Homo sapiens: one gene and its partners. The protein of the gene in region 4 interacts with the protein of the main gene of each other region in a biochemical or structural test. Each region holds a gene or a part of one and is shown on either strand. Other genes may lie near its edges. The genes, in order: MTPN, DPF3, STAT3, NFKB1, NFKBIE, HDAC5 and IRF2.

Region 1 (3,500 bases), on a different chromosome or scaffold from region 4:
ATGTCAGCTTGTATAAGATACAGGTGCCCTCAGTAGACAGAGAAACATTAGTATAGATTCTTTTCTAATTATTAATGCTTTTAGTCATTTTAAAAAATATATAAAATAGAGGAAGATCTTTTTTTACATTGGAACATAAATGTTCATTCAGATGTACATAGGCTATATAAAGTGTTTTGGTTTGAGATTCTAAACATTTTCCTTTTATTAGTGCAGATAATTAAAAATTTAATGAATTAAAACTGATAGAAATTATAACAATATTATGAGCTTGTTATTTAAAAAAGCAAAGCTGTATTGAATAAAGTAAAATATCCCATTGACTATTTTTCCTACCTATGTGGTTCCTCTCTTTAAAATATAAAATTGATTAGGTGTTTTTAAAACAGAAAAGAATAAAGAAGACAAAAATTGGCCAAAATTTTACTATTTAGATAACTCCTAACTTTTAAAAAGTAAAATTAAATTAATTCAGATGTGGATTTTAAAATGCCACAGTTAGGACTGAAAGGTAAAGATCTCCCCTCCCCAATGCCTGTGAACAAATCAGCCATTCTCAACAGGTCCATGTAATTAATTTCAGAAAAACATTGAAAATTTACTTACTCATCTGTTTTTCCCGCTTAAAAAGTTCTGTAAACACTTCTGCACTTTGCTTTCCACATTGAAATGTATTTATTCTTCCCTTTTTAAATGGTGAATAGTATTCCATTTTCTGGATGTTTATTTAACTATTCCCGTATGATAAACATTTTGTTTCCAGTGCATCTTTGCAATTAAACAGGATTGTCGTGATCACCTTTGTACATATACCTTGACAACTTTTGAGACTATATCTGCATTACTCTCTTCATGAGTTTCGTCAGCTTAGGCACACATTGGCAGACATGAGACCGATGGTTCCCTCACACCATCAACAGCACTGGGCATCATCAGACTTTTTAGATTTTGCCATTTGGATAGGTGAAAAATGATTGTTTATGTCTTTTGTTTATTTTTCTTTTAGTTGGTCTGTTTTTTATTGGTTTGTATAAACTCTATAAATTAGGGAAATCAGTTTTTTATCATGTTTTGCAAATATCGTTCCCAGTTAATCTCTTGACTTCATTTATTTTCTTATTCTACAATGGTCTTTTACTTTTTGTGGGGTTAAATGTATCGCTTTTTTTCTCTTTTGTGACTTGGATTTTGTATCCTGTTTACAAAGACCTTTTCTCTTCTGTAAAATTACAAATAAATTTGCTCTTCTGGAACTTCATTTTTTCTTCCATTTTGGACATTTGACCTTTCCATTATTTATTTTGAAGTAAGGCATGAAATAAGTGTATACTTTTTTTTTGACAGTTCTCATACCATTTATTATTATAGTTCCTCTTTTTTTTTTTGCACGTTAAGTGGTATATATTATAACAGATATTAGGAAAATGCAAATTAAATCCACAATGAGATACTACATTATAACTATTAGAATGGCTAAATTGGTAAGACTGAGAAGCTCTAAGGTGAAATGTTCAATAAATCATATTTAAAACTTCTTATCTGTATTAAGTAAATATTATTTTGTTTAATATTTTTTCTAGTAATTTCTGACATTCTTTTTTTTTTCTTTTTTTTTTTTTTTATTATACTTTAAGTTTTAGGGTACATGTGCACATTGTGCAGGTTAGTTGCATATGTATACATGTGCCATGCTGGTGCGCTGCACCCACTAACTCGTCATCTAGCATTAGGTATATCTCCCAATGCTATCCCTCCCTCCTCCCCCCCCCCCACCCCACAACAGTCCCCAGAGTGTGATAATCCCCATCGCAAGAACAAAAAACCAAACACCACATATTCTCACTCATAGGTGGGAATTGAACAATGTAGTTCCTCTTTACTAATAATTTGAACCATCATCTTTATCATAAACAGATTTCTTGCTCTTTTTCTATCTATACCAAACTGATTTAATGATGTGTGGTTTCAAAATAGGTTTTAGTATCTCCCTCTCACATTCTCTTTAGGATTTTTGCAGGTGATTCCTTAAAATTTTTTTTCCCATAATCTCAAGAAAAATATTAGGATGATTTGAACCTACCTAAAACTTAACCTGTATCTTTTAATAAGCATTAAGCTTTTTTTTTTTTTTTCTGGAATGCTGGGATCGTGTGATCTGTGGGACATAATACTTTAACTTTTAATTCTTTATGAATCATCTTAGGAGGATGTCATGCACTGTGAGAATGTGCCATATCAAAGATTCAAAACAGAGGAAGTGTGTTTAGATAATCAAATCACAGCAAAATTGGTGATGAAAGTTAGTTTATGGTATTACATCACAGGCCACCTTGTAATAAGAAAAATGGCTGAAAGTAATTTTTTTGCAGCTATATCTTTACTAAATAATTCTGATAAGCTTAGAAGCTTGATTTTTTTTTTCAGTCCACAGAAAATTACCAGTGTAAAGAGGAGCTGTGATTACTGAAAGAAAAGAAACCAAAATGTAAGAAGCTGACCCAAGAAAGTGAAGGGCAAAGAGCCATATTTACCTTAAAGTTTCAGAGGCCTCAGGCAATAATTAATATGTATAAGCGTAACCTTGAGCTTCACGAAAAGTTTAAACTTGGTTACTTTTCTCTTATTTACAAAGTCAGAGACATGTATAACATATTTTAGGAAGATTTCAATTTGACATATAAAAAAGAATGAGCATTTTGATACTTAGGCCTAAAGTAAGTATCTGAAAAATACTGAAAAATGGAGGTATTAAAAAAAAATTGTAGGCCAGGCATGATGACTCATGTCTGTAATCCCAGCATTTTGGGAGGCCAAGGCAGGAGGATCTATCACTTGAGCCCAGGAGTTCAAGACCAGCCTGGGCAACATAGCAAGACTTCCATCTCAACCACAAAAAAATTGTAGGTAGTAAACACTTTAAACATAGTACAATAGACGCTCATTATGGCACTGTCCTTTAGGGATTTGGAATTGCATTATTGGTGAAACCATAGCATAGAGGCTAAATGTGTTGGCTTTGGAATTAGATCTTCCAGGTCTGGCCTTCTTACTAACTAGACACTTTGGGTGAATTAAGCACTCAGAACTTGAGTTTCTTCAATTGGTGAAAATGGGAATGATTGTAATACCTACATAATAAGTGTAAACTGTGTACCATTGTGCCTGGCATATGGTGAGTGCTAGTAAATATTAGCTGTTGTTACTAATCAGCATCCTCATAAATTTGTTTAGAAGCAAGATTACTTACAGAGCAACTAGTCCAGCTCCCTTATTTTATAGATAAGGAAAAATTAAGTGTGAAAGCCCTTGACCAGTATCATAGTGCTATTTGAGATTGAAATTTAAATTCAGTTTTCCTGAACTTGGATGAGGGTTGGTTGGTTGGTTTTCCGCTACACCATTGTGTTTGCTAATGAAGTCATCTTGTGCTAGCTGTTACCTCTAATAAATTATTCTTTTTGTCCCACAACATCTGCTTGGCAAATTTCTTCTTCTTCCTG
Region 2 (3,500 bases), on a different chromosome or scaffold from region 4:
ACATAATCTCAAATATCCTATTTCTCTTGTTGAGGAGATAATCTCCAAGTATCTCCCCAACAATATTACTTATTAGTATATTACAAAGGGAAAAACAGTAACTTTACAGTGAAAAAAATGGCAGACACTACCTTAACTATATAATCACAGATAACATTACAAGTAATAAGACGTACTGGCCTCAATTTCCCCCGATATGATGCGCCAAGAAGGGCACAACATTACTTTAGTGGTATTCTTGCTAAAAAATGTATGCATATGTGGATCTTATCATGAGAAAAGATCCAACTGAAATTGAGTGACATTTACAAAATCACTGGCTTGGATTTTTTGAAAGTGTCAAGCTCATGAAAGACAAAGAAACTGAGGAACTGTCACAGATTGAAGGATACTGAGAAAACACAACAATTAAATGCAATGAGGGATCTTGGATTGGATCCCTGGTAAAGAGACATAGGTTGGGGGCCGGGCGTGGTGGCTCACGCCTGTAATCCCAGCACTTTGGGAGGCTGAGGCGGGCGGATTACCTGAGGTCAGGCGCTGGAGAACAGCCTGGCCAACTTGGTGAAGCCCTGTCTCTACTAAAAATACAAAAATTAGCCAGGCATGGTGGCACATGCCTGTAATCCCAGTTACTCAGGACGCTGAGGCAGGAGAATTGCTTGAGCCCGGGAGAAGGAGGCTGCAGTGAGCCGAGATGGCACCACTGCACTCCAGTTTGGGCAACAGAGTGAGACTCTGTCTCAGAAAAAAAAAAAAAAAAAAAAAGAGACATAGGTGGGAAAACTGGAGAAATTAAAATAAAGTCTGTAGATTAGTTAACAGTATTACACCAATGGTAATTTTCTGATTTTCGTAATTCTGCTATAGTAATATAATATGTTAATATTAGGGCACAGTGAGTACAATTCTCTGCATAATTTCTGCACTTTTCTCTAAGTTTAAAATTATTTCAAATAAATAAATAAAAATATAGTGTGATGTTTCTCTAGCATCTTCTGAAGGTGACTAAGGTTTTAAAAAATATGTTTATGAACTTAAGATTTTAAACATATTTTATTTGTTATAATCCATTATAGGTAAAATTGTCCCATCTTTGACCAGTGGTAACATATTCAGGTTGGATCCTGAGTCCTTTTGACATAATCCTAATAGTATTTGATAGCTTCCTTACTTTGTAATATGTAAATATATTTATACATTTTATGCTCCAGACCTGGAATCACTTATTTCTCCCAGGACTCCTAATTCCTTTTAGTGGGCAATGGTCTTTAGAGAACATAATATGGGTGCTAGAGGTGCTAATTTTGCTGTTAGTCATTGTTTTGGAGCACTTTCTGTGGACAGAGGTAGAAAATATTTTTTGCTTGTTTTAAAGATACACTACACCATGAATTTATACTGATGCATCCAGTTCATACTTAGAACCAACTACTGACTTTTGACTTAACTTCATTGGCCTACATTTCTATTTTCTTTCAACCATGTTACAAAATCTTGCTCTTCAATAATACCAACATAATTACTCATTTGATGCACATAAAGCAGTCTCAGAATATTGATTCCAATATTTAAACCAATAATATAATTGCTGAACATTACACACACACACACATATATATGCAGATCTGCATTTATGTATGACCTTAAGGTATGTCCTACTAAGGATGTATTGTCAAATTAATTGTTTTATAGTCAGATGGAATAGTTTCTCTCTGTGTGGTTATGCTACCAATTGGATACATAACCAAATTCATTTGCCTCATTTTTCTTTTGTTTTTTTTAGGGACATATTGCTATTTAAATTTTGTTTTATGACTGTGTAAAATATTTATTGGTTCTAAAATCAAATTTATAAAGAAACATTATATTCAAAGAAATGTAGCTCTCTACTTACCTCTTCCACACTATTCCTTCACTCTGCATATAGGCAACCACTAAAAAATATGATTTGTCTTTCCATTTTGTTTAAATGTAAACATGTGTGTGTATATATGAATCCATGAAAAATGGTAACAAGTATATATGTTTTCTCCATCTTGCTTGTTTTCTCTGAATATCTTAGAGATTAATCTGGAGGAATATATAGACATTCTTCATTCCTTCCTACAGCTGCATAATTTTTACTTATCCAACCATTCCCTTATTGATGGACATTTAGGTTGACGCTGGTCTTTGGCTTTACAGATAGTGTAAATGTAGAGGATTTTTTTGTTGACTTGGCAGAGCCTTTGAGGAGGAGTCAGGGGGTGAGGTTGTTGGGGCACTAGGATTCCTCTCACATGGTCAGGGATTTACCCTGGATATCCGAGAATGGGATTCCCATTCTGCTGGAACTGTAGTAATAGGTGATTCCTGGTTCCTGGATAGTTGGTAGTGAGAGGTACTAAAATTGTGTTTGTCATGAGAGTTAGCATAAGCTGGGGGCTCTTGGTGGTGGAAGAGAAGAGAATATGGTGCTAGACAGTGGTCAACCCATGCAAAATGCACTTAAACTCTCAGATGCCTAGTTTTCCTTTGGGAAATTGTAATCCAGGATATTCTACCTATTTGTATTTCCCATGTCACTGCTGTAGTAGGGGTTATTACTGTTTTTAAGGCATTAATAACACTGTTTCTGACAAGTCCTGTCTGTTTTCTGTCTCCATCCTAACTTGTTTCTCCTTGTATTATCCCTAAATCAAATTGTCCTGTAGCTTATGCTGGCTCTGCAATAATGATGTAACTGTTTTGGCGTAAACTACAGTGTGCTCGTCTTCATCCCACCTCTCTGACTGTTCCTTTTCAGTCTTTTTTTCTCTGCCTGTCCTGTAAAGTTGGAGTACCCCAAGTGTACTTCTTCTCAGTAAACTCTTGGCCTTCTTCTCAGTAAACTCTTTTGGGTCCTTGATCTTTCAGAGAATTCAATGAAAGCTACGGACTTACTCTTTCCATAGAAAAATGTACATTTCTACCTATGTACAAAATTGTGTGTATCATTTCAAGGGGTTCATGGACACTTCTCCATGAAGACAAGGTCAAAGACATTTGCTCTCACACATTCTGGGCTTCCTCTCCTAGGACCTTCACTTGCCATCTAATTACAATGAATCCCAAGTCCATATCTCAGGCCCAGACTTCTCTCCTGCTCTCTTCAACAGCCTCCAGGTCATCCCTATCTGTAGAACATGTCTATAGCTGAGGTTGCCCTCTCCCTCCCATGAGTCTGCTCTTCCTCCCATGTCCCATTGGGTGGCTGTATCATCTGGCTTGCTGACCAAGCCACAACCCAGACGGCATCCTTGGCTTCTTCCCTATCACTCTCCCCATCTAATCAATGATGCTTAAATGGGAGCAAGACCCATTTCTTTCTCCATGCCGCAATTGTAATTCAGGCCACCATCATCACGCACCTGGATAGCTATAGCAGCTTCCTAACTGGTCCCCGGGCCTCTTGAATGAACCTCTCCCCCACTGGGTATCTACTCTTACATAGCAGCTAGTAAGATCTTTCTAAACTG
Region 3 (3,500 bases), on a different chromosome or scaffold from region 4:
TTTAAATGTCATTAAAATAAGTTATTTTGTCCTTTTTAGAAAAGTAATAACATGCTATTATAAAAAAAAAGACTTGTAGGAATATAAAATGTGTGTTTTACATGTATCCTGTTAATTGACTTGCTTTTATTCAGATTTTTTGCAGCCCTTTCTGTTTACCAGGTTATCTTGGAGACATATTTATTCCAAATTCCTTTTTTTTTTTTTTTTTGAGATGGAGTCTCGCTCTGTCGCCCAGGCTGGAGTGCAGTGGCGCTATCTTGGCTCATTGCAAGCTCCGCCTCCCGGGTTCACGCCACTCTCCTGCCTCAGCCTCCCGAGTAGCTGGGACTACAGGCGCCCGCCACCACGCCCAGCTAATGTTTTTTTTTTTATATTTTTAGTAGCGACAGGGTTTCACCGTGTTAGCCAGGATGGTCTCAATCTCCTCACATTGTGATCCGCCTGCCTCGGCCTCCCAAAGTGCTGGGATTACAGGCGTGAGCCAGCACGCCTGGCCTTCCAAATTCCTTTTAACAGCCTAGCAAAAGAATAATAAGGAAGGTAAATCTGCCCCTACAAGAAAATAATGCTTCGACGATCCGGCTTTCCTTCCTGCTACCCCCAGCCATAAGAATAAATGACCTTGCTCATCACTGAAATTTTACCTGACCTTTGAATTTTTAACTGCGTCAGCCAAAGAACTTATATTTTGAGTATTCCTAAGGTGATTGCTATTGTAGTTTTGAAACACTTGGTTGGTATGTTTGAGGGTTTCATGGTCCAAAGTTACTATAGCAGTTAAAAGAGTGGACTATCAGGTCAGACCTATTGGGCTTTAATCCCAGTTCTGCCTTCTCTTAGACCTTGGGCCTGTTGTTTTCACTTCTCTGGTTTTCAGTTTCTCTGTCCACAATTGTGGAAACGAGGTCCACTTGTAGAGTAATTGAGAGGATGAAGCAAGATGATGCATATCAAGTACTTTGCATAGTGCCGGGCAGACAGGTAACATTCAAGTGCTAATAATTACTATTATTACTATTTATTTTTTGAGACAGGTTCTCACTCTGTCACCTAGGCTGGAGTGCAGCGGTGAGATCACAGCTCATGACAGCCTTGACCTCCTAGGCTCAAGTGATCCTCCTGCCTCAGCCTTCGGGGTAGCTGGGGCTACAGGTGTGTGCTACCACCCTCAGCTAATTTTCTAATTTTTTTGAGTCAGGATCTCGTCACGTTGCCTAGGCTGAATTACTCTTATTAAAAACTATAATATCAGGCCGAGTGCGGTGGCTCACGCCTGTAATCCCAGCACTTTGGGAGGCCAAGGCGGGTGGATCACCTGAGGTCAGGAGTTCAAGACCAGCCTGCCCAACAGAGTGAGACCCCCCCCGTCTCTACTAAAAATATAAAAATTAGCCAGTTGTGGTGGTGGGCACCTGTAATCCCAGCTACTCGGGAGGCTGAGGCAGGATAATCGCTTGAACCCGGGAGGCGGAGGTTGCGGTGAACCGAGATCGTGCCACTGCACTACAGCCTGGGTGACAGAGTGAGACTCTGTCTCAAAAAAACCGAAAAACAAAAAGCATAATTAGGGTGGTAACGCTTATACATAGGGGCAGGTGGAATAAAACATAATTAGGAGGTCGGGCATGGTGGCTCACGCCTGTAATTCCAGCACTTTGGGAGGCCGAGGCGGGTCAGGAGTTCAAGACCAGCCTGCCCAACATAGTGAGACCCCGTCTCTACTAAAAATATAAAATTTAGCCTGTTGTGGTGGCGGGTGCCTGTAGTCCCAGCTACCCGGGAGGCTGAGGCAGGAGAATTGCTTTTGAACCCAGGAGGTGGGGGTTGCAGTGAGCTGAGATCGCGCCGCTGCACTCCAGCCTGGGAGACAGAGCAAGACTCCGTCACAAAAACAAAAAACAAAAAACTGTCATATCAAAAACTAAACTAAAATGGTAATATCTGTTAGATATTACAAAGTCAGGCAAATTATGATTCATGGCAGCCACTAATGACCCAAAGGAGAGAAAGAATAATTAGCAGATTCTAACCTAATGGGAAAAAAACTAAATGAATAGGGATGGGGGACTTACATTCTGTTAGAGGAAATTGAGGCTGTCATATAAAAGGAATAGGTAAGGCAAACTGTAAATTCCTGTTTACACAAATGCCCTTCTGATAAATCTCTGCATTGCCCACAGTCCATGATTACCTCTCCCTTATTTTAAGTAATATTTAACACATTAAAAATGGATTACCACCCAAGGAATTGCTCCCGACCCAGAAAGTGCAGGTAGTGTTGAAGGTTTGAGGGGAAGAGGAATGATTAGAGTTGGTTGTGTCTCAGGAAGAAGCCAACAGGAGGAACCTTATTTTGAGTCAGGTAAAGAAGGTGGGAGTGAGGAGGCATCCCGGTGGCCAGGTATGAAGCTGGGAGCTGATTGCTGCACATTACTCAGCTGAATTAAATGTGCCCTCACATCTGTGTGTGTGCGTACATGCAAATGTACATGTGTATGAGTTAGTTGGAGGGGTAGACCTTTATTTTCCTGTCCTGTAACTTTCCTTTGCAAACTAATCTGTATTCAGAACAGTGTTGCAGTTAAGAACCACCCAGCTTGTCCATGAAACAGGTTCTCTCACCCCATCTCCCCAGTTTTAGAGAAGGCAGGAAAGAAAAGGCAGTGCTTTTCTTTTTTCCTGGCCGTATGCGGGGCAGGAAGAAGCCAGCAGAGCTTGAAAGAGAAAGTAAACCTTCTGGGAAATAAACGGCTTGGCTTCCCTATTGTGGAGGAGGAGTGCAAATTATTAGGGGGATGTTTGGGTAGTTTTTGTAGAAGCCATTTCTGAAAACTGATTTGGATTAGTGAAGGTAAGCCCAATTTAGGAAAACCCTGCCCAGTCTGGTGTCAGCCACCTGTTTCCCGCTTTGTTTGATTGATTTGATTAGTTTGTGGTATTCTGACCTCTCATTTTTATTACAAGAGTTGGAAGATTTGAGTCTGAACTTGAGCACCTGCTTCGGTGAAAGCTTCCTAAAATGCATGTTTTTTCACATTTTTTCTCATGTTCATTTTGTTTTGCTTTTTAGCAAACACTTTTTCTGACAGAATCTAAAAGCATTAGACTTTTCTTGTTTTCCCCTTCTCTCCCCACAATGTAATCTTGAAAACCCAAATGTTAGCTGTGTAAATTACCTCTCCCGTAAACCAAACAAAGTGCAATATTGCATTGAGTTAGCATTGAAATAGTCGGCCTTTGAATTTTTTTCTACTTGTGGTTTAGACATAATAAATATTTCATCTCAGACTGACTTTCTCGACAAATCAGTTTTGCATTTGGGCCTCTTTTCATCAGTATGTTTAGGGAAAGCACATTTATTGAAACATTAACCAAAATGAAACATAATTAGGAGGCCGGGAGCGATGGCTCACGCCTGTAATCCCAGCACTTTGGGAGACCAAGGCATGTGGATTGCTTGAGGTCAGGAGTTCAAGACCATCCTTGCCGACTTGGTG
Region 4 (3,500 bases):
CGGGGTTTCACCATGTTAGCCAGGATGATCTCGATCTCCTGATCTCATGATCCGCCTGCCTCGGCCTCCCAAAGTGCTGGGATTATAGGTGTGAGCCACCGCACCCAGCCTAAAGCACATTTTAAAGAATGGAAATAAAAATAAGAAAATAGATATTTTAATTTCCTTTAAAGAAAATGAAGTTTTAATTAATTTTCTTTAAAATAATAAAAGCATTTTCCTTTAAAGTGAGGAAATAGAAATGATTCACATCACTGCTATAAAAACTGAGAGAGCAGGAACAAATATCTTTACTAAGTAAATAATTACACAGGATTTTGGCCATAGTTTTGGAGTGAGAGATACACGTGAACCAGCAAACCATCTCTCCAAGGAGGATGAGGAAGATGCTTCGGGTCGATGAAGGGAAGGAGACAAATGGAAAGGTAAGAAGTGGGCAAGGGCAGGAGCCCCATACAGCAGACTGGTGGGAGTAGGGGAAAGACAGTGAGGTGGGAAAAGCAATCAGGGGCAGGAAGGAGGAAACCTCAGGAGCCGAACCCCATCTTGGTTTCATGCCAGTGCAGTCGCTCAGCCAGAAAGGCTGGCTGGGGTCACTGGGCTCCCATCACCAACGTCCAAGCTCTGCTTCTGCCGAAGTGGCTCCCAGGCTCCTTGCCTCTCCCTGAATTCTGCATATGCCCATCAAAGGGCCTCGCTGTGTCTCCAGCTAACTCTCCCTTTGCAGTGTTGGAAGACCTCTGGAAAAAACAGTTCCTCAACTTGTATTTTCAGCCCACCTAATTAATTCCTAAGAAAACCTGATTTGGGCAAAACTCTGGTGTTCCCACTTTTCCTCACTTGGAGCTGTCTTTCTGCTTTTGAAAGACACCTTTTCCTCCTCAAGCAAACTTTTAACCTTTCTGTGTGGTGATTTCAGAATGCTTCATTTGATATACATTTAATCTGGATGTTGTCAAGGTATGTTTCAGTAGACTTCAAAATTATTATAAATTACTGGCTTTTCAAACTTTTTTTAACTTTATTTTTCTTGACAGATGTGACATTTTTACTTTAGTTTCTCCCTCTTAAATGAAAAAACTGTTTGATTTCTAAAGTTTAAAGTTTGCCTTCCCCCAGCGGGATGCTGAATTTCATTGTGGCTTGATGGCTGTTATACCCACAGATCAAAGGATCCTACATCATAAAGTAACATTCTCAACTAATGGGATTTTAGATATTACCTACAAAGGTTTGTTTTTGTTTTTGCTACTGTTAACATTACTAAAAATAACATGCACCCAAACATAACAGAAGAAAAAGTAAACTACAGATTTTTCTTCAGTTGTTTTCTTGAGATTTCTGCTTACCTGGTACAGATCATTTCTCATGTTGATAATGTCATCAGAAATCAAACCAGATGTGACTTCTAGTAGATCCCTCACAAGTTGAGAATGAAGGTGGATGATTGCTAAGTGTAAGACACTGGAATGAAAACACAGTGGCAATAATTAACTAAAATGTTAATGAAAAAGAAAAGATTCCCAAGATGTGATTAGACTCAAGAATGGAATCTGCTCTCATACCTAGTTTTATTTGGCCCTAAAATGTTTTGAATCTATAAAATGCATTGAATCTGAGGTGGGATGCTGTCTCCAGAGGACTGGTCCCTCCCAACTGCCTACCCAAGGCTGCTACGTTATTTGTGGTACCTTCCTGGCCTCTGGGAGCATTCAGGTCTTGACCCCTTGATGTATAAACACACTGAGGCTTCCAGCCCAGAAAGACCTAAGCTTAAATCCCAATCCTGCCTCTATACCATGGCTTTGGGCGGTTTTCTTCTCTACCTTTCCCCCTGACTTTTCCTGACACACAGATTCTATGTAAAATGAATGCCTGGCACTAGGAATTGTTCAGAAAAACTTAGTTACCTCACTTAGCCCTGCTGCCCTCCTCCAAAATACAGTGTGGTGGTTTTTTAAAGATCTTTCCAGATCCCAAGAGTGGAGAATGGAGTGAAGCTTTTAACTACTGGAAGAAAATTCTTGCAGTAAACTTGTGAAGAAACAAAGTGATTGTATTTCCCACCACTCCTGCAAACATTCCAGCAAATATTCCCTCTGCCTGGAATGTTTTTGCTCCTTTCTTCTGCCTGAACAATGCCTACTCCATCCTTTATATTCCAGTTCAAACCTGACATCCTCAGAGAATACTTTCCTAACCTCCTAGGTGGAGCAAGTTGTCCCTCTCAAATTTACTGCTTGGTTATGCAACTGCAGTTTTCTACACATTTTTCTCGTTCTCTGTCCTGTCATCTCTGGGGCAGGTTCTGTCTGAGTCAGCCTTACAACCCTAGCATGCAGTAGAGGCACAAAAATAAGAATGATAGAAGGAACTTAAGAGCTTACGCTAATGAGGCTGAACATACTGGTGGTGTCAAAGTCACTCACAGGAGCGTAATTCTTTTAATTATTAAAAAACATACTATTAAAATTCAAAACAATAACAATAACAATCATTTTACCAGTGGCTACTATTTGTTGGGAGCTTTGATTTACCAGACTATGCTAAGCATTTGATATATATTGTCTTTTTACTATAACAATAATCCTATGAGTTAGGTAATATTATCTTCACTTTTCAGCTAATGAAACTGAGACTTGCAGGCGTCATATAACTCAGTCAAGGCCAATACGTGGTGAAGCTGGGATTCAAGCCCAGGCCTGTCTTACTCCAAAGCCATCTCTTAATCCCTTAAGCAATCCTGCATAGGGGATACATGTGCACTGTTCTAAAGACATTCAGATGAATGTCTAAGAAGATGACCACTCCAGAGCATGGACAGATTGAGGTGCAGAGCACACTAAAGCATCTCGCAGCAGCACTACATCTGGGACACGAGGTACAGGCTGGATCTTCTCTAAAATAAGCTATCAGGTGCCACTTTACTCAAGCCTCTTCCTTAGCAATAGCAAGTATATCGTACTTGGGATTAACTCCGGCACAGAAGAGCCTAAAAAACTAAATTGTGATTTTGCTACTTGAGAAATATTTTAAAACGGATGATCTCAGGGTTTCACTATTGCTTCTTGAAATGTGATACTGGAAGAAGACTTCTGAAAAGGGCCTAAACTCTGACATAGACATGATGCACATACACCAAGAAAAAGGTCATACTTCTAAAACTGCTCGAAAATTTCCATGTGCCGCTCAGCATTTCATAGCAGAAGTACATTCCCCCTCCCCCTCAAATCCTCACACCCTTATGGGAATTTCCCCAATAGCAGAAGTTTTATATATTTTTCTTTATTATATTTTCTATGATGACTAATGGCCACAGGATTTAAACTATTAGCCAAATATGACGAGCTGAATTAAAACAAGAGACTTGGGCTGTGATGGCCAAAAGCTGCCCTATACCTATGCTCTTATGAGGATCCTCTGGTCTCTCCAAGTCCCAAATCTGTGGCCTCTCTGAGAGCCGGCTTGTGTGAGTGTGCTTGGGTCTTAGGAGGGAACTT
Region 5 (2,443 bases), on a different chromosome or scaffold from region 4:
CGAGAGAATGTTATGCCCAGATACCTGTTTGTGCCCTGGCAGCCATTCCCAGCAGCCATACCAGTCCAAAGGCTGCTCACTTAGGAAACCATATGCCAGACACTGAGCTAGAAACTGAGGAGACAGACCCAAGTAAGACATGGCCTCTGTCCTGAGGTGCTTGCATCCTGGGCTGGGGGACTTGTATCAACAGCTAAATACACAGCCTGGTGACAAGAGTTGTGATAGAGACACATACCAGCTGCTATAGGGTCCAGTGTCTGTGTGCAGCAGCCAGGGAAGGCTTACAGAGGAGATGCCATCTGAATGGAGCCTAACAGAGAGTTTTGCCAGGGAGAGACTGCCCGGTGCCTCTATCTTTCCTCCTGCAGCCTAACCCCTGGGGGTAACAGAGGTCTCCTCACAGGGTGAGGGGCTAGACTCTCCTCCTACATGTCCTTTCTCCAGGGCCTAAGGTGACTTACAAGAAAAGCAGAGAGCTACTTTCTTCACCTTGCTTCCAGAATTGGGATCCCAAGAGCTTGGTGGGGGAGGGGTGTGACAGGGGAAGGGCTCGGTAGTATTTCCTTGGAAGAACAGGTTATGGCCTTTATAAGCTGCTTTCAAAGAAGATGCTGGCAGCTGGTGATTCTTGAGCCCAAGCATGTTCCCAGAGGTGGGAGCATGCTGCAGTGGCCCCATGACCCTCTATTTGTGCCTCCAGACAGCACTCCATCTGGCTGTACATCTGGACCAACCGGGCGCAGTTCGGGCACTGGTGCTGAAGGGGGCCAGCCGGGCACTACAGGACCGGCATGGTGACACAGCCCTTCATGTGGCCTGCCAGCGCCAGCACTTGGCCTGTGCCCGCTGCCTGCTGGAAGGGCGGCCAGAGCCAGGCAGAGGAACATCTCACTCTCTGGACCTCCAGCTGCAAAACTGGCAAGGTGTGGACAGTCTTTAAGACTGCCCTTAGGGCCTGTGGGATGAGGAGGGCATAGGAGATAGGGACCTCACTCTTGGGGAAGGGAGGGTCCCAGCTTGTCCATTGGTGCCCCTCCCACTGTAAGCACATAGATATTCAGTACATCTTTGCCAAATGAATGAATGGATGATTTGATTTCGAATTTAACCAGTACCTACTGCCTGCTGAGAAGAAAACTAAATCTTGCCCTTAAGATACTTAGTTTAATAGAGATTAGATGACCTGATTCATTCATTCAACAGAAATGTACTGAGGGTTTTCTATGTGCCAGACGTTATCCTAGGAGCTACACTTGCATCTGTGTGCAAAATAGAGAAAGATTGAGATGAGCAATAAATGTAAGAAGTGAACTATGTAATATGTTAAAAGGAAGTAAGTGCTGTAGTAAAAAGCAGAGCAGAGTGAGAGGAAGGAATGTGGGGAGTAGGAGAGTTGATATGATTGTTAAATAGGGTGGTCCGGGAAGGCCTCATGGAGCCAGTGACATCTGAATAGCGCCCTGAGGAAGGTGAAGAATGTAAATTTGAATCGAAATCTCTATTACTAAGCAAGGGTCGGGAGTGTCCAGACTAGAAAGGAGAGCAAAAAGGCCAGGGGAGCACAGAAGGAAGCGGCCCCTGAGAAAGGGCTGGGGGCATGAGGATCTTAGGTGGCTTTTCAGAAAAGGTGGCTTTCAGACTGGGCTTGAAGGCAGGTTGTGTGTGTGTGTGTGTGTGTGTGTGTGTGTCTGTATGTGTGTGTGTGTGTGTGTGTGTGTGTGTTGTAGTTTGTGTATAGGAGGAGGGTGTTCTTTGGGGGTGTCACTCAGCAGCCTGACCCCTGAAGCATGAAAGTTTCAATAACATGACTCTGAAAAGGTGGAAACTTTGAGTTCCTTTCCCCTTAGACTTTTGAGGGGGTTTTGGGGTTTGCATTTTAACAGTCTTGTGATTAGAGACATTGAGTGGGCTGTGAGTCCCTTGGGGCTGAGTGGTAGGGAGGTCCCAGAAGAGAGGGAGTTGGTGGATGCAGATCAGCAGCCCTCACCCTCACTCTCACCCCATCCCAGGTCTGGCTTGTCTCCACATTGCCACCCTTCAGAAGAACCAACCACTCATGGAATTGCTGCTTCGGAATGGAGCTGACATTGATGTGCAGGTGAGACAGCCAGCAAAGCACTGCCCGGCCCAGGGCCTGCCCCCACCTGACACATCCCCAAGTCCCCTGCCCAGCAGTCAGAAGTGGTGGCATTCACTTCCTTATCCAGAGCCCAGGCCCAGCACACTGCCTCTGAGGGCCTTGGCTGACATCCTTATTCCTCCCCAGGAGGGCACCAGTGGTAAGACAGCGCTGCACCTGGCTGTGGAAACCCAAGAGCGGGGCCTGGTACAGTTCCTGCTCCAGGCTGGTGCCCAGGTAGATGCCCGCATGCTGAACGGGTGCACACCCCTGCACCTGGCAGCTGGCCGGGGTCTCATGGGCATCTCATCCACTCTGTGC
Region 6 (3,500 bases), on a different chromosome or scaffold from region 4:
TGGAGGAATTTCTTTACTATAGCAGAATGCTCAGCTTCCTTTTCGTGATGGTGGCTTCTTTACTTAGTGGAATGTTTGTGTTCCATACTTTTTTCTTAGTGGAGGTTTACAAGGGCACTGGGCCTTAACCTCCGTGTGCAGGTGCGTGGCATTGGGTGGGAGTGGGGTGACGTGTGTAGAGGAGTCTCGGCTCTCCTCTGAGTCCAGGTAGACTGCCTCTCTTCCTCTTGGGCCCTTCATATGGTAGATTGCTAATCTGGGGTCTTTTACTCTGAGATTTCCTGTTCCTCTTTGTTCCTAGGACCCTGTCCAGTGCTGCCAGAAATAGTCTATTTGGGGGACTCTAGGCAGCTTGATGTGCAGCTGGGTCTGGATGTATGCCTGTGAGGCTGTGTTCTAGTGGCCTGAGCTGGACCCTCAGCAGTTTCCCAGGAGGGTCCTGGGGCAGTGTGGTCAGAGTAGTGGCTGTCGTCTCCTCCTCCTCGGGTGTCTCCTTCCACACAGTGTTAAAGGTCCATCTTGCTCAACTTTAGCTCTCCACGGCCCATCGTACTCCTCATCTTTTTTATGTAGGGGTAGGTGGATATTTCTCCTTTTAGAGATAGGGCAATTGGGGCCTAGGATGAATACCCATTTGCAGGATTGTACAGAAGCAGCATCAGGGAGGAATCCAGACCACCCCACATTTTCTTCCCCATCATCCTTTCTGTAGGGTTTGCTGTTCTCCTTCAGATATTCCTCCCTCTGCCCTTGCCCTCATTCAGCCCCTAGGGGCTGGGACAGGTGGGCTGCCCAGCTCTGCCCTCTTGCTTGCCCCTCTGAGGCTGGATGGCGAAGGGAAAGGAGAGGCCTGGGTCCTCATCTGTCCCTCGTGCATCTTGGCTGGACACTACCCCAGCAAGCTCAGCCATGTCGGGCAGTAGTGCCAGCTACTTCTTTCCTCTGAGTTGTGACGCTGACCTGTCCAGGAGCCATCTGCAGTCCCTGCTTCCCATGGGGCTGGGGTCTAACTCTTGGCCAAGGGAATTGAAGCTGCCTAGCGGCATCTGTTGGTGGCTTGGAAAGGATTTTTCCCAGCTTTGGGGTTTCTTTCCCTTGCAGGGAAATGTGATAATCAACCCAGGATAGATGAAGTTATTGGGTTACCTTTCCAGATGCTGGCGGTCCAAGTTTCCCTTGCAGCTACCTCTGTGGGAGCTGACAAGAGTGTTGGAGGAGCTGGACGTGTCCACCAACGCAGGAGGCTGGCAGCTTGAGAGCCACTGCTGAGCCCTGGCCAGGAGGGGCGTCCTGAGTGGGCCTGTGGAATGGGCCCCGCGTCCTGCCTGGCTTTCCAGCTCCCCCCAGCAGGGGGAGATGCTGTCTTCTCTGTGTTGGGGAAAGAAGGAAAAAAGGAGGGGGCCAGGGATTGGGAACCTCATTTTAGGATTGTTGAGAGGCTTTGGAACTGGGGCCACTGCTTGGGGATGTTTGCTTGAGGCCCTTCCTGCAGAGTGTTCCTGGGGTTCTGGACTGGCTTTCCCAGTTGTGGGGTTCCAGCTGCCCTGGGCCAGGGAGATAGTCAGCCTCCCCCCAGCTCTTCCTTTCTGAGGGGCCTAGCGTCTGCTATTCCCAGAGCTTGGGCTGGCATCTGGGCTAGGGCTGGGGTGCCCAGCGCCTGGCAGAAGCCTGGAAACCACATGCCTTGGAACTCGGCGGAAGTAAAGTGAGACCACCGATTGAAGCCAGAGCACGCGGGTGTCCACTTCCCTGTAGAGAGCCCCAAGAAGGAAAGGTATGGGCCATGGGGCAGGAGATAAGAGGTGGGAAGGAAGGAAATGGTTAGTCCCCAGGGTCTGCTGCAGCCCCTGAGCGCCTCCCACCTTTTCCTCACTTCCCTGAACACTTGCTCCTCTTTCCCCAGAGTAAAGGACAGTAGGCTTTGTAAGGGGCAGAGCTTCTGGTTCCCCTCAAGTCCTCTCAGCGTAGGAGCTTTTCAGTTTGGCAAGTCCTCACTGAGTATCACCAACAGGCTCAGCCTGTGGAAGACAGAAGAAAATATGAGATGGGCCATCCCTGGTCCTCACAGTGAACATGTTAGCAAGAGAGACTGTTTTGGTGAGGGGCAGCAGGTGGAGACTGTGAGTGATTTCCTTCTGGGGCCCACTGCCCAGGAAGGTGGGAGCTGATGACTTCCCTCTGGCTCGGGCTGCCTACCAGCCTTTGACTTTATTTACCTCTTTTGCAGTCTTGGAATCACAGGCGGAGGCTATTGATGGGGTTGCCTGCTTCCCTGAGACCATTCCCTGATCTCTGCCTTTTCTTCCGGCAAAAGGGGGTTTGAGGATTAAGGCTGTCTTTATTTTTCTGGAACTGTTTGCTTCTGCATGTTCTCCTCAGTGGGGCTGAAAGGCTGACAGAACTTTCCCTCAGCTCAGACTCGGCCCAACCAGGTTGGAGGAGCTGCCCAGGGGCCTGGGACCCAGGCCAGCTCTGGTTGTACCCTCTTTGTGCCATTGCCCAGAAGAGCAGGCAAGAGTGAGGCCCACTGTGCAAGCCAGTCTGGGTGGCAGCGGGGCCATGGAGGAGGCGGCCAGGATCCTTCTCCCCAGTGTGGGAGGGAGACAAGCTTCATGACAACACCTGCCTGCCCAGCGCCTCCCAGAACCTTCACACTTTCTCTCTTTCCCTTTTCCAGGATGGAGGGCAGCAGCCCCCCCCCCCCACGCCTGCTCTCTGGGTGACCAGAGAAACTGGGGCATGGGTGTGGGGTGGAGCCAGGAACCTCGGTGTCCTGCCTTCCAGCCTTGGGCTCTGCCTCCTTCAGAGCCCCCAGGGAAGGCAGGCAGTGAGAAAGTGGGTCAATCCTGGCATGGGGCTGGGGTCTGAGAAGTAGACTCCTGGCCTCCCTTCTCTACTGAGATGCCCCCTGGCACACCTCTGTGCTCACTGCAGAGCGGGACCTGCTTCTCCCCTCCTCTTCCCTGCTCTATCATTCCAAAGAGATTGAAGGCTTAGAATGGAATGGCCAGAGAAGGCAGGGTCAACCCTGAGGGGAAGTAGAAGATGCCAAAGTAGGTGTTCACATTTTTCCTGGACTTGGCTTCAAATGAGAGGGTTCAGCCAACACCTAGCATGGGGCCTGGCTGGCACATGGCAGCTCCCAGGCCATGCTGATGGGCTCCAGCATGACTGGGCTCGAAGGGCAGGAAAGAACAGGAGGGTGGGCAGGTCTGATATCTGGGTCTCAGGGAAGCTGGCATCTCACACTTCATCCAGGGTGCTCCTGGGCCAGCCATTGGCTTTTTCACTGCACACTAAGCAGACCTTGCTTTCTTCCCTTTGGTCAAGGTCCCCCCATCCCCACAGCCTTTGGGCTCAGGAAATGGAACCTGGAGCCAGGGTTAGGCTCTTTTCCTCCTTCAGATTCAGAGGGCTAGGAGGTCAGAGTGCAGCCTTTGAGGGAGGGGCAGAGTGAGTCTGGGGAAGACAGTCCTGGCTCTGGGTGAAGCTCATGTACC
Region 7 (3,500 bases), about 82 Mb from region 4:
CATTCATCAGCTGATGGACACTCGGGTTGTTTCCATCTTTTGGCTTTTGAAAGTAGTGCTGCTATGAACGTTTATGTTTTGGTTTGAATGTTGGCTTAGAATTCTTTGGGTATATATCCAGGTGTAAAATTCCTGGATCATCAGGTAATTCTGTGTTTCACTTTCTTGAGGAATGGCCAAACTTTTTCTCCAGAGTGGCTGTACCATTTTGCATTTCCACAGCGATGTGTGAGGATTCCAGTTTCTCCACATCCTCACCAACGTTTGTTATTTGTGTATCTTTTTTTGGAGACATGTCTGTGGGTTAGTCTGTTTCATGTTGCTACAAAGGACTACCTGGGGCTGGGTAATTTATAAAAAAACGAGGCTTCTTTGGGTCAGGGTTCTAGGCTGTACAAGAAGCATGACCTTGGCATCTGCCTCTGTTAAGGCCTCAGGATGGGAGGCAAAGGGCATTACATGGCAAGAGAGGGAGGAAGAGAGAATGGTGCAGGCGACAGGCTGTTTTGAATAATCAGCTCTCACCGGAGCTAATGGAGTGAGAGCTTACTCATTACCACGAGAACGACACCAAGCCATTCTTGAGGGATCCTGCCCCATGACCCAAACACCGTCCACCAGACCCCACCTGCAACACTAGCGATCAAATTTTAACACGAGATTTTGAGGGGACAAACACCTGAACTATTCCAGTCTACTCAGGCCTGTTGCACATTTCAAGAGGGTCCATAGTGTATGTTGCTGGGTTTGGTCAGCGCTTTTGTAGTTGCATGGCTTTTGCGGTTTCTGTGGGACTAGGTTTGGTTGTGTGTGTGTGTATGTGTATGCATGCATGCGTGCAGATGCTTAAAAAGATCTACTTTATCTGTATCAATTTTGTGTCTTGCAAGTTAGATTTCAGATTGTGTCACCCTAGAACTCCTTTGATCTAGAAAAAAGTGCAACAGCAAATTCTTAAGAATCTCGGTGTTTAAGCATAAAGCTTTAGATTCTGGGCATGCACTTCAGGAAAAGCTCTTTCACGAAATGAATTTTCACTTGTATTCATTTTCATGTGAACATCAATAAATGGCATTAAGTGATTTTGCTGTCGATTTTCATCTACATTAAAGCATAAAATGTCACTCAGCCCCTTTCTGATCACTGTCCTTTTGAAATTGGCTAACCCGAAGCCCTCTCTGTGGATGATACAGAATGAACACCGAGGAATTTATGAAAAAGTCTCTCACTTTCAGTTCTCCTTTAATAACTGACTTTTTAGAAGATGGTAGAATTTTCCTTTTAACAGGTTTTGGGAAACTCTCCAATGTTCTGAAATAGTCTTTGTTCTGGCTTTGTGATTGGTTCTGTGGAGAGGCGCTGAATCTCTTTGGGGACAGCTGGGACCCTTTCTGTGTTTCACTATGTGAGACTGAAGTGGTGGAAACTCCCTGCTGACATTTCCTCTCCTTCCTCAGCATCTAGTGCAGGGATCCGCATACCTAGCAATTACCAGAACTGCCTTGAGAGCTTTGAAAGAGTACAACCTCCTGGGCTTTAATCTCCACAGAATCCAGGTCTCAACTGGTCTGTCATAGGACAGGGACTCTTCCAAATCTAAAAGCTGGGAGACAATGAGTGGGTGATTAAGTAATAGCATATGGAGTCGCATGACCTGGGTTTTGAACTTAGACACTTATTATCCTGCAAGTTCCTTGACTAAATAGTTAAAATCTGCTTCTTGGTTTCCTCAGCTATAAAATGGAAATCGTAACATATACCTCACTCAGTAGGCTGTGGGAGGAAGACAAAACTGAGGTCCCTGTGGATGTGGGTAGTCAGATGCACAGTGCCAATGGGACCTTAGTACCTGCCGGTACCGCCACAAGAGCTGCTTGGGCCAGGTTCCTCATCTGTAGCTTTACTAAGAGTACGGCTTTGTTACTAAACCATGGGTTTCCAATCATGTGTTTTTCAGGGTTGCTTGAGGCGGTTTTGAGTTACAGACCTCAACACTGAGAGAGATGTAGAGATAGTCTGATATAAGGATTGTATTGAGGGATGTTTCTCCAGAAAAATGTGTCATTTCATAACCTCTACCTCTTTGTTTGCACTTCTTGCTATTTCTTGCAGGCAGTAGACCCACAGGGATTCGAACATTACTTTCTATTTCTGTTGGATGCACAAGCAAATGGAGATATTTGGTTTCTGTGACAGTGGCCTCAGATGTACCCGACTTTTCTTTAGTAGCATCAAGGGTTTTGGAAACTTGTCTAATTTTTAATTTACCTAAGATAGCTGGAGTTACTATTTACCAAACGACGAGAATAAATTATAAGAGTAAGCATTAGAAGTTTCGGTAGGTGGCCATTTTTCTGTGGTTTTATAAAAAAAAGAGGCACAGGGCCGGGTGTGGTGGCTCACACCTGTAATCTCAGCAGTTTGGAAGCCTGAGGTGGGCAGATCACTTGAGGTCAGGAGTTCGAGACCAGCCTGGCCAGCATGGCAAAACCCCATCTCTACCAAAAATACAAAACTTGGCCAGGCGTGGTGGCACATGCCAGTAATCCTAGCTACTCAGGAGGCTGAGGTGGGAGAATCTCTTGAACCCAGGAGGTGGAGGTTGTAGTGAGCCGATATCGCGCCACTACACTGCAGCCTGGGCAACAGAGCGAGACTCTGTCTCCAAAAAAATATATTGAAAACTAGAAAAGAGGCACAAATAATGGAACACACAAGGTCAAATCATCACCTTTGACCTTGGAAAACATTCCTGCTCTGCAAGACTTCACGAGACTGACTGTCACTCGGGGTAGTCTATCAAGATTTGGGATCCAGCGGGGGAAGTGGGTTTGGTTTACAGTAGATTTTCTTGTCAGCAGTCAACACATTCAGCGATGCTTGCTGGGGAATCTTGCTGGCTAGACCTTCACAACCTTTTGCAATGGTGGGCCAAAACCCATGACTCCAGTTCTTTACCTTTTTTTTTTTTTTTTTTTTCAGGAAAAGAAGATTTTTCAGATCCCCTGGATGCATGCGGCTAGACATGGGTGGGATGTGGAAAAAGATGCACCACTCTTTAGAAACTGGGCAATCCATACAGGTACTAAAACTCCCTGCGGCGTTTATAGAGGAAGGCACTCTTGCTTAGTTTTGTTTTTATTACACATAAAATAGCCTGGCTTATGACCTCATGAAGATGGCTCTGAAAAACCTGTGACTTGTCCCTAGGCACATCCAGGACACATGGGGTACAAACTGCAGCCCTCAGAAGTAATGCTCCCCTCATCCCATACACTCTTAGTCCTTCAATTTCCTATAAATGTGGTATTCTAAGAAGTTCCCTAGGTGTTACCGGGGAATAGAAACTCAGTTGTTCTGATGCTATAAACTTTGGTCAAATTTATCTCCCCCCCAAAAAGGTAGTCAGAAATACCTGTATTTATTACAACCTTTACGTAGGGAGCTGTTTACAGGAATGGACTTTGTTGGAGCGTCAGATGAAAAAGAGGCACTCAGCT

Evidence for each region.
Region 1: the proteins of NFKB1 (region 4) and MTPN form a complex in vitro, tested with the Homo sapiens proteins (one study listed by BioGRID).
Region 2: the proteins of NFKB1 (region 4) and DPF3 form a complex in vitro, tested with the Homo sapiens proteins (one study listed by BioGRID).
Region 3: the proteins of NFKB1 (region 4) and STAT3 form a complex in vitro, tested with the Homo sapiens proteins (one study listed by BioGRID).
Region 5: the proteins of NFKB1 (region 4) and NFKBIE form a complex in vitro, tested with the Homo sapiens proteins (one study listed by BioGRID).
Region 6: the proteins of NFKB1 (region 4) and HDAC5 form a complex in vitro, tested with the Homo sapiens proteins (one study listed by BioGRID).
Region 7: the proteins of NFKB1 (region 4) and IRF2 form a complex in vitro, tested with the Homo sapiens proteins (one study listed by BioGRID).

The regions. Positions count from the first base shown.
Region 1 is NC_000007.14:135,967,360-135,970,859, reverse strand, and holds part of MTPN (myotrophin), read left to right. Parts: intron 1-3,500. UniProt on the Homo sapiens protein: Promotes dimerization of NF-kappa-B subunits and regulates NF-kappa-B transcription factor activity. Plays a role in the regulation of the growth of actin filaments.
Region 2 is NC_000014.9:72,621,602-72,625,101, reverse strand, and holds part of DPF3 (zinc finger protein DPF3), read left to right. Parts: intron 1-3,500. UniProt on the Homo sapiens protein: Belongs to the neuron-specific chromatin remodeling complex (nBAF complex).
Region 3 is NC_000017.11:42,378,443-42,381,942, reverse strand, and holds part of STAT3 (signal transducer and activator of transcription 3), read left to right. Parts: intron 1-3,500. UniProt on the Homo sapiens protein: Signal transducer and transcription activator that mediates cellular responses to interleukins, KITLG/SCF, LEP and other growth factors. Once activated, recruits coactivators, such as NCOA1 or MED1, to the promoter region of the target gene.
Region 4 is NC_000004.12:102,598,859-102,602,358, reverse strand, and holds part of NFKB1 (nuclear factor NF-kappa-B p105 subunit), read right to left. Parts: exon of another isoform or gene 2,624-3,500; intron 1,465-2,623; coding exon 1,350-1,464; intron 715-1,349; exon of another isoform or gene 328-714; intron 1-327.
Region 5 is NC_000006.12:44,260,109-44,262,551, reverse strand, and holds part of NFKBIE (NF-kappa-B inhibitor epsilon), read left to right. Parts: intron 1-703; coding exon 704-926; intron 927-2,012; coding exon 2,013-2,101; intron 2,102-2,269; coding exon 2,270-2,443. UniProt on the Homo sapiens protein: Sequesters NF-kappa-B transcription factor complexes in the cytoplasm, thereby inhibiting their activity. Sequestered complexes include NFKB1-RELA (p50-p65) and NFKB1-REL (p50-c-Rel) complexes.
Region 6 is NC_000017.11:44,113,642-44,117,141, reverse strand, and holds part of HDAC5 (histone deacetylase 5), read left to right. Parts: intron 1-1,146; exon of another isoform or gene 1,147-1,230; intron 1,231-3,500. UniProt on the Homo sapiens protein: Responsible for the deacetylation of lysine residues on the N-terminal part of the core histones (H2A, H2B, H3 and H4).
Region 7 is NC_000004.12:184,419,051-184,422,550, reverse strand, and holds part of IRF2 (interferon regulatory factor 2), read left to right. Parts: intron 1-2,982; coding exon 2,983-3,082; intron 3,083-3,500. UniProt on the Homo sapiens protein: Specifically binds to the upstream regulatory region of type I IFN and IFN-inducible MHC class I genes (the interferon consensus sequence (ICS)) and represses those genes. Also acts as an activator for several genes including H4 and IL7.